Regions from separate parts of the Homo sapiens genome. Here region 1 is linked to region 2. Evidence: fine-mapped expression QTL. A gene starts in region 2. The other region holds a variant in brackets. All regions are shown on one strand. Distances are between the middles of the regions.

What was found.
Region 1: its variant is fine-mapped to the expression of SNHG29 in whole blood (TOPMed, PIP above 0.99).

Annotation. Positions count from the first base shown.
Region 1 is chr17:16,481,983-16,487,349 of GRCh38, forward strand. The region is part of intron 1 of LRRC75A (leucine rich repeat containing 75A); the gene reads right to left. LOC124903936 (a long non-coding RNA gene) reads left to right here and starts at 3,672. Exons shown (of 3, transcript XR_007065641.1): 1 at 3,672-5,199. RefSeq lists enhancers at 1,073-1,889, 2,146-3,072, 3,998-4,923, 4,924-5,367. The variant T/C (reference allele first, on the strand shown) is at 2,232.
Region 2 is chr17:16,436,742-16,442,108 of GRCh38, forward strand. It overlaps SNHG29 (small nucleolar RNA host gene 29), which reads left to right and starts at 2,246. Exons shown (of 4, transcript NR_045025.1): 1 at 2,246-2,319; 2 at 3,444-3,512; 3 at 4,333-4,389. TRPV2 (transient receptor potential cation channel subfamily V member 2) reads left to right here. Exons shown (of 15, transcript NM_016113.5): 15 at 48-262. The coding sequence ends at 148. It overlaps LRRC75A (leucine rich repeat containing 75A), which reads right to left. Exons shown (of 4, transcript NM_001113567.3): 4 at 4,836-5,367. SNORD49B (small nucleolar RNA, C/D box 49B) reads left to right here and starts at 2,768; the gene lies at 2,768-2,815. It also overlaps SNORD49A and SNORD65. RefSeq lists enhancers at 748-1,649, 1,650-2,549, 1,665-1,854, 1,915-2,244, 2,550-3,451 and 1 more.

The DNA of each region.
Region 1 (5,367 bases), 45 kb after region 2:
TGCCAGGTGCGCGGTGTCTACTGGGCGGTCTAGGTCCAGGGCAGGAATTCTGACTGTTACGCTTGGTGTGGGGCAGGACCTCCTGGGCCCTTACCTGCCCCCGGTGCCAATGGAGAGAAACCTGCCCCACTCCTGCCCCTTTCTATTGGGTAGGGCCTGAACCTGGGGCTCCAGGAGGCTGTGACTGCATAGACAGAAACTAAGGGCAGTGGGGTGGGATGGGGGGCATCACAGGTTGCCGACTTCCCAGGCTGCAAGTGCTGGCTCCCTGTGGTGCTGGGTGTCCTTCAGTGGACGAGGGTGTCCTGCAAGCCTCCTTGGCACCTGTATCTGTGGGTGGAGGCTCCATGGGGACAGCGGCTATGGGGTGGGAATGTGCCTGGAGGGGGCACTGCAGGGGGTTCCGAGATAGCTGGGGGCTCTTCCCACAGGTCCCTGGCATGCTCTGGGAGAGACCTGGGCTGAGGGCCGTGGGAAGGCCAAGTGGGCAGGAGAGGGACAGGCTTGAGGACCAGGGCCGCTGGGAGGCACCAGCAGAGCAGGTCAGGCAAGCCCACCTAGGAAGTGGGGGAGACGGGGCTTCCCACAGGTCCTGGGCCTAGCGCCTGTGTCCACTCATGAGCCCCACTGAGGAAAGGGGTTTGCCCAGCAGCCAGTGTGTGCCGTGCCCTGCACCTGTGTAGGCCCCCATGGCCAGAGACAAGGGCAGAGCTGGAATCTGACCATGGCCAGCCCTGCAGTCACTTGCCAGTCCTCTATGGCATCAGCGACTGCCCTGAGCCCTTCTAGAAATTAGCATCTTGGCCGGCCCTGCTTTCCCTACTTGTCCCAACTGGTGCCAGCTCCACTTAGGTGCCCAGGGACGTATGCTGAGTGAAAGAACCAAGTACTAGTGCACAGTCAGGTGCCAGGCAGGGTTCTTGCCCTCTGAAGGCAAAGGTCCTGAAGCTCGGCTGGGGCTGGCAGGTCTGGGTCTCTGTGGACAGGACAGAGGCTGGAGTGGGGACAGGCTCCATCCAGACGAGCATGGAGAGCAGCCCCTCAGAGAAGGAAGCCAGAGTGGGAAGTAGAGGGAGGGGAGAGAGACCAGATGTGCAAGGGGCCAGAGCAGCCCCACAGTAGGCAGAAAGGTGGCAAGGGAGCCAGGCACTGAGTCATGTGGACAGCAGGTCCCAGCAGAGCCTGCCCCAGCCTCATTACCCTCCCCAGTGCTCTGAGATGAATGGTTTGTGGCACACAGGGCAGCTCGGGCCTCTGTGAGGGCTGGGCTTTGCTCATGTGTGAAAGTCTGCAGGTTCCCTGGTTCTGGCCTCTGCCCCTGGCACCATGTGATGTGGCCTTTCACCCTCCGTCAGCTAGGACTGCGGTCAGCACAGACAGGTTGGCCTCGGCAGTATGGGGGTCGGCCCCAGTACCTGGTGGGGAGGTATCTGTCCCCTCTCTGTCCTGGGACCGCTGCATCCCAGCTCTTGCACCAGCTGAGGCCAAGGTGGGTGACCTTAGGGTTCGAATGTGAATCTGGCTCAGGGCCTGGAAGAAATAACTGACCACACATGGGAATGAATGGGTCTTTCCAAAACCACAGGCACCTGGTGGAATCTCAGCAGTGGTAGGGAAACTCAGGGGTCATTTCGCCCACCACTCCTTCATTCTGGAACTGGGGAAACTGAGGCCAAAGAAGGGAAAGGGCTGGGCAAGTTAGGGTTTCCACTGGGGCCAGAACTGAGGGCTCCTGGCTCCCAGTGAAGCCAGCCTCCCTTCTGTGCCACGCTGCGCACCTGTACTGGTGGTGGCTTCTGGGGTCCTTGCCATCCCTCCCGGAGGAAGGGAAACAGCTGCTGCCATGGTTTTCTCCTGGTGGGTTGCCTGTTGCATCCCCAGTTCCTAGACTGGTGCCTGGAGGAACAGGAACTCGATTGTTGAATAAATGATTTAATGCATACTACTTTTTTAATTTTCTGCTCATCTAATTTTCTCATTTTTCTATAATTGTATATTGCTTTTATAATATTTTAAAAACCACCATTTTTACTTTAAGCAACATTGTGTCAACTTCACAAAACCACCTAATGAGGCCGGGTACAGTGGCTCACGCTTGTAATCCCAGCACTTTGGGAGGCTGAGGTGGGCGGATCATGAAGTCAAGAGATCGAGACCATCCTGGCCAACATAGTGAAACCCCGTCTCTACTAAAAATACAAAAATTAGCCAGGCATGGTGGTGTGCGCATA[T/C]AATCCCAGCTACTCAGGAGGCTGAGGCAGGAGAATTGCTTGAACCTGGGAGGTGGAGGTTGTAGTAAGCCAAGATGGCGCCATTGCACTCCAGCCTGGCGACAGAGCGAGACTCCGTCTCAAAAACAAACAAACAAACAAACAAACAAAAAACAAAAAAAAATCCACCCCCTAAGCAGCAAAATAAACATGAGAAAAGGCTTTATGGACTAGAAAGCCATGTGCAGATTGGGGAGGTGTCCCTAATGCCTGCTCTCCTGCCCAAGGCACGGCTGACACTCAGACAATCAAATCGAGCCGGGCACCCTTCTTGACCGCCACCAACCACTTCCAGTTCTCATGGCCCCACTCCCCCACCTTCCCGCTGGCAAAGGATGGGAGGCTGAGAGGGGAGCTGACCAAGATCCGGCAGAGGAACAAGAGTCTGCTTCTCACCCAGGGAAGGGAAAAACACACAGCAGGGAAGACAAAATGAAAGAAACAGAGACACAAAGAAAAGCTGCAGGGAGTGGGAGGCAGAGAGGCAGAAAGACACGCGGACACTGAGGGCCGAGCAGGAGCGAGGGGCAGCTCTGAAGGTGGCCCCAACACACTCACATACGAGGGCACTCCCCACTCTCAGCTGTGCTCCTGTGTCTCTCCTGGTTAAGATAAAGTTAGAAACAACAAAATGCCACATCTCTTTGAGCAGCAGCCGTCGGCAGAGCTCCATATGGCTGCAGCAGCCAGGAGTCTGAGCTAATAAAAGTTAAAAAAAAAAAAAAAAAGCTGGGAAATGCTCCTGGAGAGCCACGTGGGCACTGCTCAGGGCCGGGTGGGGGTAGGGAGGAGAGCAGGCACCATAGGAGGGGGTCCCCGCCCCTGCTTGGCGCGCCAAGGTCTCTGTTCTCATTCAGAACACCCAGCCCTTCTAGTAATGGTGAGTCCAAGACGCAGCAACCAAATGTGCTGTTTTAGATGCCTGGGCCCTCTCCTACCTCCATTCCAGTTTCTCTTAATGGGAGAGGATATGACAGTCAGTGCTGAAAGTTTGCGTCCCCTCCTCTCCATTCTCAAATGTATATGTTGAAATCCTAACCCCCAAGGTGATGGTATCGGGAGGTGGGGCCTACGGGAGGTGATTCAGTCATAAGGCTAAAGCCCTCATGAATGGGATTGGTGCCCATATAAAAGAGACCCCAGAGAGACCCTTCATTCCTTCCACCATGCCAGAATGCAGCGAGAGGGTACCATCACCAGAAAGCAGCCTCACCACACAGTGAATCTGCCAGCACCTTCATCTTGGACTTTCCAGACTCCAGACTGTGAGAAATAAGTATCTGCTGTTTATAAGCCACCCAGTTTATGGTATTTTGTTATAGCAGCCGGAAAGGACTAAGACAGTCGGCAAGAACAGCCAGGAGGAGCCAGGACAAGCAGTGTGTGTGTGTGTGTGTGTGTGTGTGTGTGTGTGTGTTCGTGTGTGTGTGTGTGTGTGTGTATGCGTGGGCGCGCATGCGTGGTTTTCTTGCAGGGCACCGGCAGCACTGCTCTTGGTGGGGAAGGGGAGACAGATGGCTGGCTGAGGATCCCCACACTGCGGGGAGAATCTCCAATGCTGACCCCACCCCCTCTGCATCCTGATGGAGGAGTTGGAGAAGACCCTGGTCACTGGATAACCCTTCTTCAAGGAGTCTCTCCCCTGCAGACAGGGAGTGGGGATGCAGGGAGGAATCATGGCTTCCACCCCACAGGTTACAGCGGGGTGGGGGAATACCCAGGCCCACGGTCACAGTAGAAACACTTCAGAAGTCTGAGCCAAACCCCGCTGTCTCCTGAGAGAGAACGCCAGGGACAGAGGCTGGAGGAAGTGTGTGCCTGATGGGAAGTTTCAATCCATTCTGTAAGAATTTCCTGAAAACAGACTGTGTGCCAGTTTTTATGGCCTCTGCCCCAGAAAAGCACGCATGGCAATGAAATGACACTGGGGGGAGGGGAGGGTGCACCCACCCTGACGGTCCATGGATGGAGGCCAGGGTACTTTAGGACCTCTGAAGACAGCAAAGCAGTTTCTGGTAATCTCTGAGGAGGTGGCATTTGTTCCAGAAAAAAGGACCCCCCAACCCCATCCCACAGCCTCACCAGACCCTAAAGTCAGAATAACCGGCCCAGCTACAGCCCCTGCGGTCGTGCTTAGCCACTACAGAGGCTGCTATTTCCCCAGCCAGTGTCCCTGGCAGCCTTGGAAACCAATGAAGCAGGCTCTGACACAGGAATCCCTCTGCATCTTTATCACTGGAAAAGCCTCGATCCAGCCCAGGCAGAGAGCGGCGGATTTTAAAAAGGAAGGTTTCTCTTTGTGAAGGAAATGAACATGATTCAGCACAAGAGCCGATCAGGAATGTGGAGGCCAGACTCTCCCATCAGGCTCCGCTCCCCTCCCGCCACCTCGGCAGAGGCCCCAGACTGCACCTGCCGGATGGGATCCCGTAGTGCCACAGAGCCTGGGCACCATGCCACTCCTCTCTCCAAGAACACCACCGCCTGGCAGGCTGCCAGGAACAGCCAAGCCCTGTGGACATCACTCCCAGAAATCCAACCACACGGAAAGCAAACGTGCTGTGTCTCATGACAGTACTAACAAGCCTGGTAAATCAGCCCACAGTTGCACAGCCGTAGCTGGGGAATCCAAGTGCTTTCTGAGGACACACTGACGACAGCAGCAGACACACACGCGTACGCACATCTTCACGGCACACAGACTCACTAAGGTATGCCACGAGCCTACAGGTTTTCAATACCATACAGTGGATAACAGTGGTGGTGGTGGGTCTCCGCCCTCAGGAAGCACTTGACCTTATCTGACAAACAAAAGGAACATCAGGGAAAAACTCTGCATGGATTGAATGCCTCCCAGTGTGGCAGGAACTAAGAGCCACATGGATCTCTGAGCTTCGGCTGACATGCCCAGGAAGGTGGCCCTGGAAAGGTAAGGTGCATTCAGTGGAAACATGAAAAGCATTCCAGGTGGAGGAAGAAGAGCAGGCCCAGCGTAGGGCCCCCCTGCTCGGTGTCTGGTAGCCTTCCAACCTGCTTGCCTAAAGAAGTGTTCTTAGGTGGAGGTGGAAGGAAAAAGGTGACCTTCTGAGGTCATTAT
Region 2 (5,367 bases):
GGGACACACTCAAGGGTTAAGCTACAGTGCTTGCCATCTGTTTACAGGAACTCTCGAGAACCCTGTCCTGGCTTCCCCTCCCAAGGAGGATGAGGATGGTGCCTCTGAGGAAAACTATGTGCCCGTCCAGCTCCTCCAGTCCAACTGATGGCCCAGATGCAGCAGGAGGCCAGAGGACAGAGCAGAGGATCTTTCCAACCACATCTGCTGGCTCTGGGGTCCCAGTGAATTCTGGTGGCAAATATATATTTTCACTAACTAACTCTTCTGGAAACATTATTTGGGCAGAGTTGCTGGGACCCTTAGAGCTGGCAATGTCTGCATGTCTCTGTGTGCACAGGTCTGTGTATGGGACTAGGTTGCTCCTGCCCTTGCCTGGGCACAGAGACCCTCAGTTGCTGTGTCCCCACCCTCACCCCCACATCCCCAAGTCTGGGGACTGTCCTCTTCCTGGGTACAGGCAGCTGGCTGAGGTGCTGTGCCCATTGTTGTGGCAGATATATGGTGATGGACATGGGCAAACAGCCACCTCTCCTCTCTCTCCACCACGACACCCTTTGCTTTCCACACCCACCCTGCTTTTGGGCAGGTACCTGGGAAAACCCATTAAAGCCACCTCTCTTGCTTTCTCTTCCTACCGAGCTTCTTGCTCAATTCCCACCCCTCCCAAGCCATTCTCTGCAGGGCAGCCAGAGGGCCTTCCTAAGACATAAGACAAACATGTCCTCTTTGTGCTCTGAAGGCCTGAGAGGCTCCCCAGTACCCACAGAATGCCCTAGCTGACATCCCGAGACCCCCACGGTTTTGCCCAAGCAGTTCCAGACACCTCCTCCCCTCCACCTCTGTTGCCCCTCCCTCCTTAGCACTCTCCCCAAATTCATGCAGGCCGAGAGACCTCGTGCTTGATCCCTTGACCTGGCTCTTGCTGGAAGCCCCCCTCCTCCATTAAAACCCTACACTTGGGGGTGGGGGGAGGGATAGCATTAGGAGATATACCTAATGTAAATGATGAGTTAATGGGTGCAGCATACCAACATGGCACATGTATACATATGTAACAAACCTGCACGTTGTGCACATGTACCCTAGAACTTAAAGTATAATAATAAAATAAAACCCTACACTTGCCGGGCGCCTGTAATCCCAGCACTCTGGGAGGCCCAGGCGGGCGGATCACCTGAGTTCAGGAGTTCGAAACCAGCCTGACCAACATGGAGAAACCCCGTCTCTACTAAAAATACAAAATTAGCCGGGCGTGGTGGCGCATGCCTGTAATCCCAGCTACTCGGGAGGCTGAGGCAGAAGAATCGCTTGAACCCGGGAGGCAGAGGTTGCGGTGAGCGGAGATCGCGCCATTGCAGTCCAGCCTGGGCAACAGGAGCGAAATTCCGTCTCAAAAAAACACAAAAACGAGCAACAACAACAACAACAACAAAAACCCTACACTTATTTCTGAGGCCAGCTCAAAAGGTCTTATGATTGTCTTCCCAGTTTTTTGCAGTCAAAATGAATTTCTTTCCCTTGGTATAACGTGTGTGTGCAAAACGTGGTTGCATGGATTCTTTTTCAAGGAGAGAGCTGAGCATGTTCATAGGCTGAAAGGAAAGCCACAGTAGAGAGAGTTTTCCATGGAAGGTGAGGCAGGGGCATAGGTGGAGGAGGCCCCAAGGAATGAGGAGAGGAAAGGAGGTGGGCAGAGCTTTACCCCAGAGGCGAGCAGAGGATGGACGTGGATCTAGATAAGACGTCAGCTCGTTCCCTAAAGGTCGTGCTAAAGGAGTAATGAGGGTGACCAGTGCGCAGGGGTTTGAGAAGCCCCGTGGATGTGGTGAAATAGCTGTGGGGAGAGTATTTGGCAACGCTCAATAGATTCAGGAGGAGCTACTAGGATGAATGGCTGCCTTGTGCCACAGCTCTACAGGCTTTCACGTGTGTCATCTCACGTGATCTTCTGGGGCGCTGGTGTCTCCGTTTACTAGAGGACCAATCGGAAGCTTAAAGAGAATGAGTAATTGGCCCAAGACCACCCAGCTAAGGAGTGGCGGAGGTGGGGCCCAAACGCGCGATCCAGCCCTCGCGCAGGCGCCCTGGAACTCCCCGCGCGTGTTGTGACCCAGAATTCCCGGGGCTGTGGAAGAGACCATAGACTCAACAGGAGGGGGAGTCCTGGGTAGCGCGCCGGTCTAAATCGTTACTTGGCGGAAAGTTCCCATGAGTCTTTGCCAGCGTCCCCCTCCTTTTGTGAGGATTGGGATATTCCGACTCCTTAAGGGCCTGGCGCACATAAGGTGTGACCTTTTCATTCCCGTTGTTATGGAGGTAGGCTCTCTAGGAATCTGGGAGTAGTAGCTGGGGGGCAAGAGCAAATAAAGAGCTCGAGCTTCTGTGGTCTCTGGGGAGATGTTCCCGGGAAGCCTGTCTAGAGGGCGGAGGGCAGCTGTTGAGATGGCGTGGCTCCCCGGCTCCTGCGCCCGCGTGGCTTTCGCGGCGGGCGCTGCGGCCCGGTATTGGACAGCCTGGCAGGGCAGCGCGGGGCCGAATCCGGCTGCCGTGGCTGAGGCTCATGGATCACTCTTTTGTGGTAGGGCCACATCTGCCAGAGCCTGGAGTCTGCGAAGGCCGGGACCCGGTTCCCCGGCCCACAGTGGGGGTGTGCAAACCCGAGAGAACTGGGTAAGTTGGGGTCGGCTTGCAGTTTGGGGTACCCCGAGGGCGGTGTACGTCGGTAAGATTGTAACAGTATTACTGGAAGACTTATTCGACTGTCCTGATGATACTTGTAATAGGAAGTGCCGTCAGAAGCGATAACTGACGACGTCTAATGTCTATCTGACCGCAGTCGCTGAAACCTCTACAACTTAGTTGACCGTAACTGCCAGAGCCCTGCCCTGAATTCCTGTCCTTACTCCCTCTTTAAGATTGCGTACCCACTGCAGAGTGCTGAAGACGGGGTAGCCACGAGGTGAGAGGCTCTCTGGTGTAGGGTTTAACATGGAACGTAGTTTTGTCACTTGAATGCACGGAAATTGGCGTTTTGACAGTTTTCTACGTTTAGGTGTTTTATACACTTTAGGGTAACGTTATCATGTCATTGCATAGGGTGGAACTTAAATAGAAACTGGAGATGGCTGCTTCAGCCACAGTCCTAACCTAGAACTGCATTTAAAGCAAACTGATAATGCAGAAACAAACTCCTTCGTTAAGAAATGTCTCCAGTAGCAGGGTTAGCTTAAGTTTCAGGTAGGGTCTAGATCTGCGGTTGGAACAGTACTGGAGGGTTGTGAGGTGCTTGACTGCTCTGATGAAATCACTAATAGGAAGTGCCGTCAGAAGCGATAACTGACGAAGACTACTCCTGTCTGATTGCAGTCAAGTCTTCACCACTTGCTGGTTCCCAGGAGTAAACTTGTTTGAACGGTGACCTAATTGCTATATTCACCTAGGTTGCAAATTCGTGAAGAATCAGCATCATGTTTGGCAGCTGAGTATTGGAGCCAGGAGCCTGCCATGAGGTAAGCCTTGCTCTATGGGGAGGCTAGTGGCTGACCACGCCTAGCTGTCAGGTCGAATATTGGCAATTGGATTTGGTTAACCTAATACCTTGTAACAGTGTAGCCTATCCCAGAGATACTGATTTTAGTTTCCGGTGGCAGTGGAGCCAGGGTGGATTACCTAGAAAGAGGGGCTACTCTATTTACCTCTTGGCTGTTTAGTCTCGGGCAAATTACCTGTCTGCTGAGATGTAGTTTTCCTCAGATGTGAAAAGGAAAAGTAATCTTAGCTTTGTGAAGTTTAAATTGATATGACTGAAATGGAGATTACAACTCCCCTGAGGCTGGGCACAGTGGCCTGTAATCCCAGCACTTTGGGAGGCTAAGGTGGGTGGATCACCTGAGGTCAGGAGTTCAAGACCAGCCTGGCTGGCCGACATGGTGAAACCCCATCTCTACCAAAAATACAAAAATTAGCCGGGTGTGGTGGCGTGTACTTGTAATCCCAGCTACTTTGGGGGCTGAGCCAGGAGAATCGCTTGAACCCGGGAGGCGGAGGTTGTAGTGAGTCGAAATCGTGCCACTGCACTCCAGCCTGGGCAACAGCGAGACTCCATCTCAAAAAAAAAAAAAAAATTACAACCTACTGAGAAGCTAATTAAGATTTGTAGTCCTCAATAATTTACAAAAACTTAGAAAAATTACCTCTAATTAGGTCTTAAGGGGCTTTTGTTAGGATGGACTTAAATTTGTAAAGTCATTAATTGACTGTCATCAGAAATGCCTGTCCTGCTCTGCATCTGCAGTCTCTAAGGTGTATGCGCCTTCTCCATTCCCCCAGGTTTTGAGAACAGAGTGCTGTTTTAGAGCTGGCAGCAGCATCTCAGCCCAAGAGAAGGTAAGCCTTGAGCTGGCCAATGATCCCTTCAACCCCATAGTGGAATGAATAAACAGCTGATCTTGTTAAAACTCGCTTCAAAAAAAAAAGATATCAAATGATGAAATCACCCAAAATAGCTGGAATTACCGGCAGATTGTGTAGTGGTGAACCTATGGTTTTCTGAAGATATCTCTTACCCTGTGATTGACTGTCAGTTGGTGCAGAAAGTGAGATTGAAATGTAGTTTCTTTGCAGGTTATATTCCCAGAGGATGTCAGTCCCAAGGACCAGTAGCTGCCATCAGTTTGGATTCTGAAAACTAACTGGCATCAACACTGGGTGTAGAAACATGCTTGCCTTATGTATCAGAGGACATGCTCAGCAGATCCAAGAGATATATTTGGCAACTTTTTCTAGAAAAGGCACATTGGGTATCATTCATTACATTCTTGAGTTTTTTTGGGTTTTTTTTTTTTTTTTTGAGACAGTCTTGCTGTATTGCCCAGGCTGGAGTGTGGTGGCACAATCACAGCTCATTGCATCCTCAATCACCCAGGCCTAAGCAATCCTCCCACCTTGTAGCTGGGACTACAGCTCACAGCACACCTGGCTAAAATTTTTTTTTTGTTGAGACGGATTCTCTATGTTGCCCAGGCTGGTCTCAGGCTCCTGGGCTCAGATGGTCCTCCTGCCTCAGCTTCCAAAGGCACAGGCCAAGTTGTAGCTTTGTCCCTTGCCATCATGCCCAACAAGAGGTTCTATACCTTTTAATGAATTGACTTTCATAAATTGGTTATGTTGGTGGGCAAAGTTCTTTAAGCTGGAAATTGTAAATTCCTCCTGAAATGTTTTTTCATGCAGTTACCATGAACTAATACTACAATAAAGGATGGTCTTGGGTGTCAATTCTTGAAAATGTGTATTTGAAGAAAAAGTAAATTTCGCCTACTGTTGTCAGATATTAGCAGTCCAGATATTCGCTCTAGCTTGTAAACT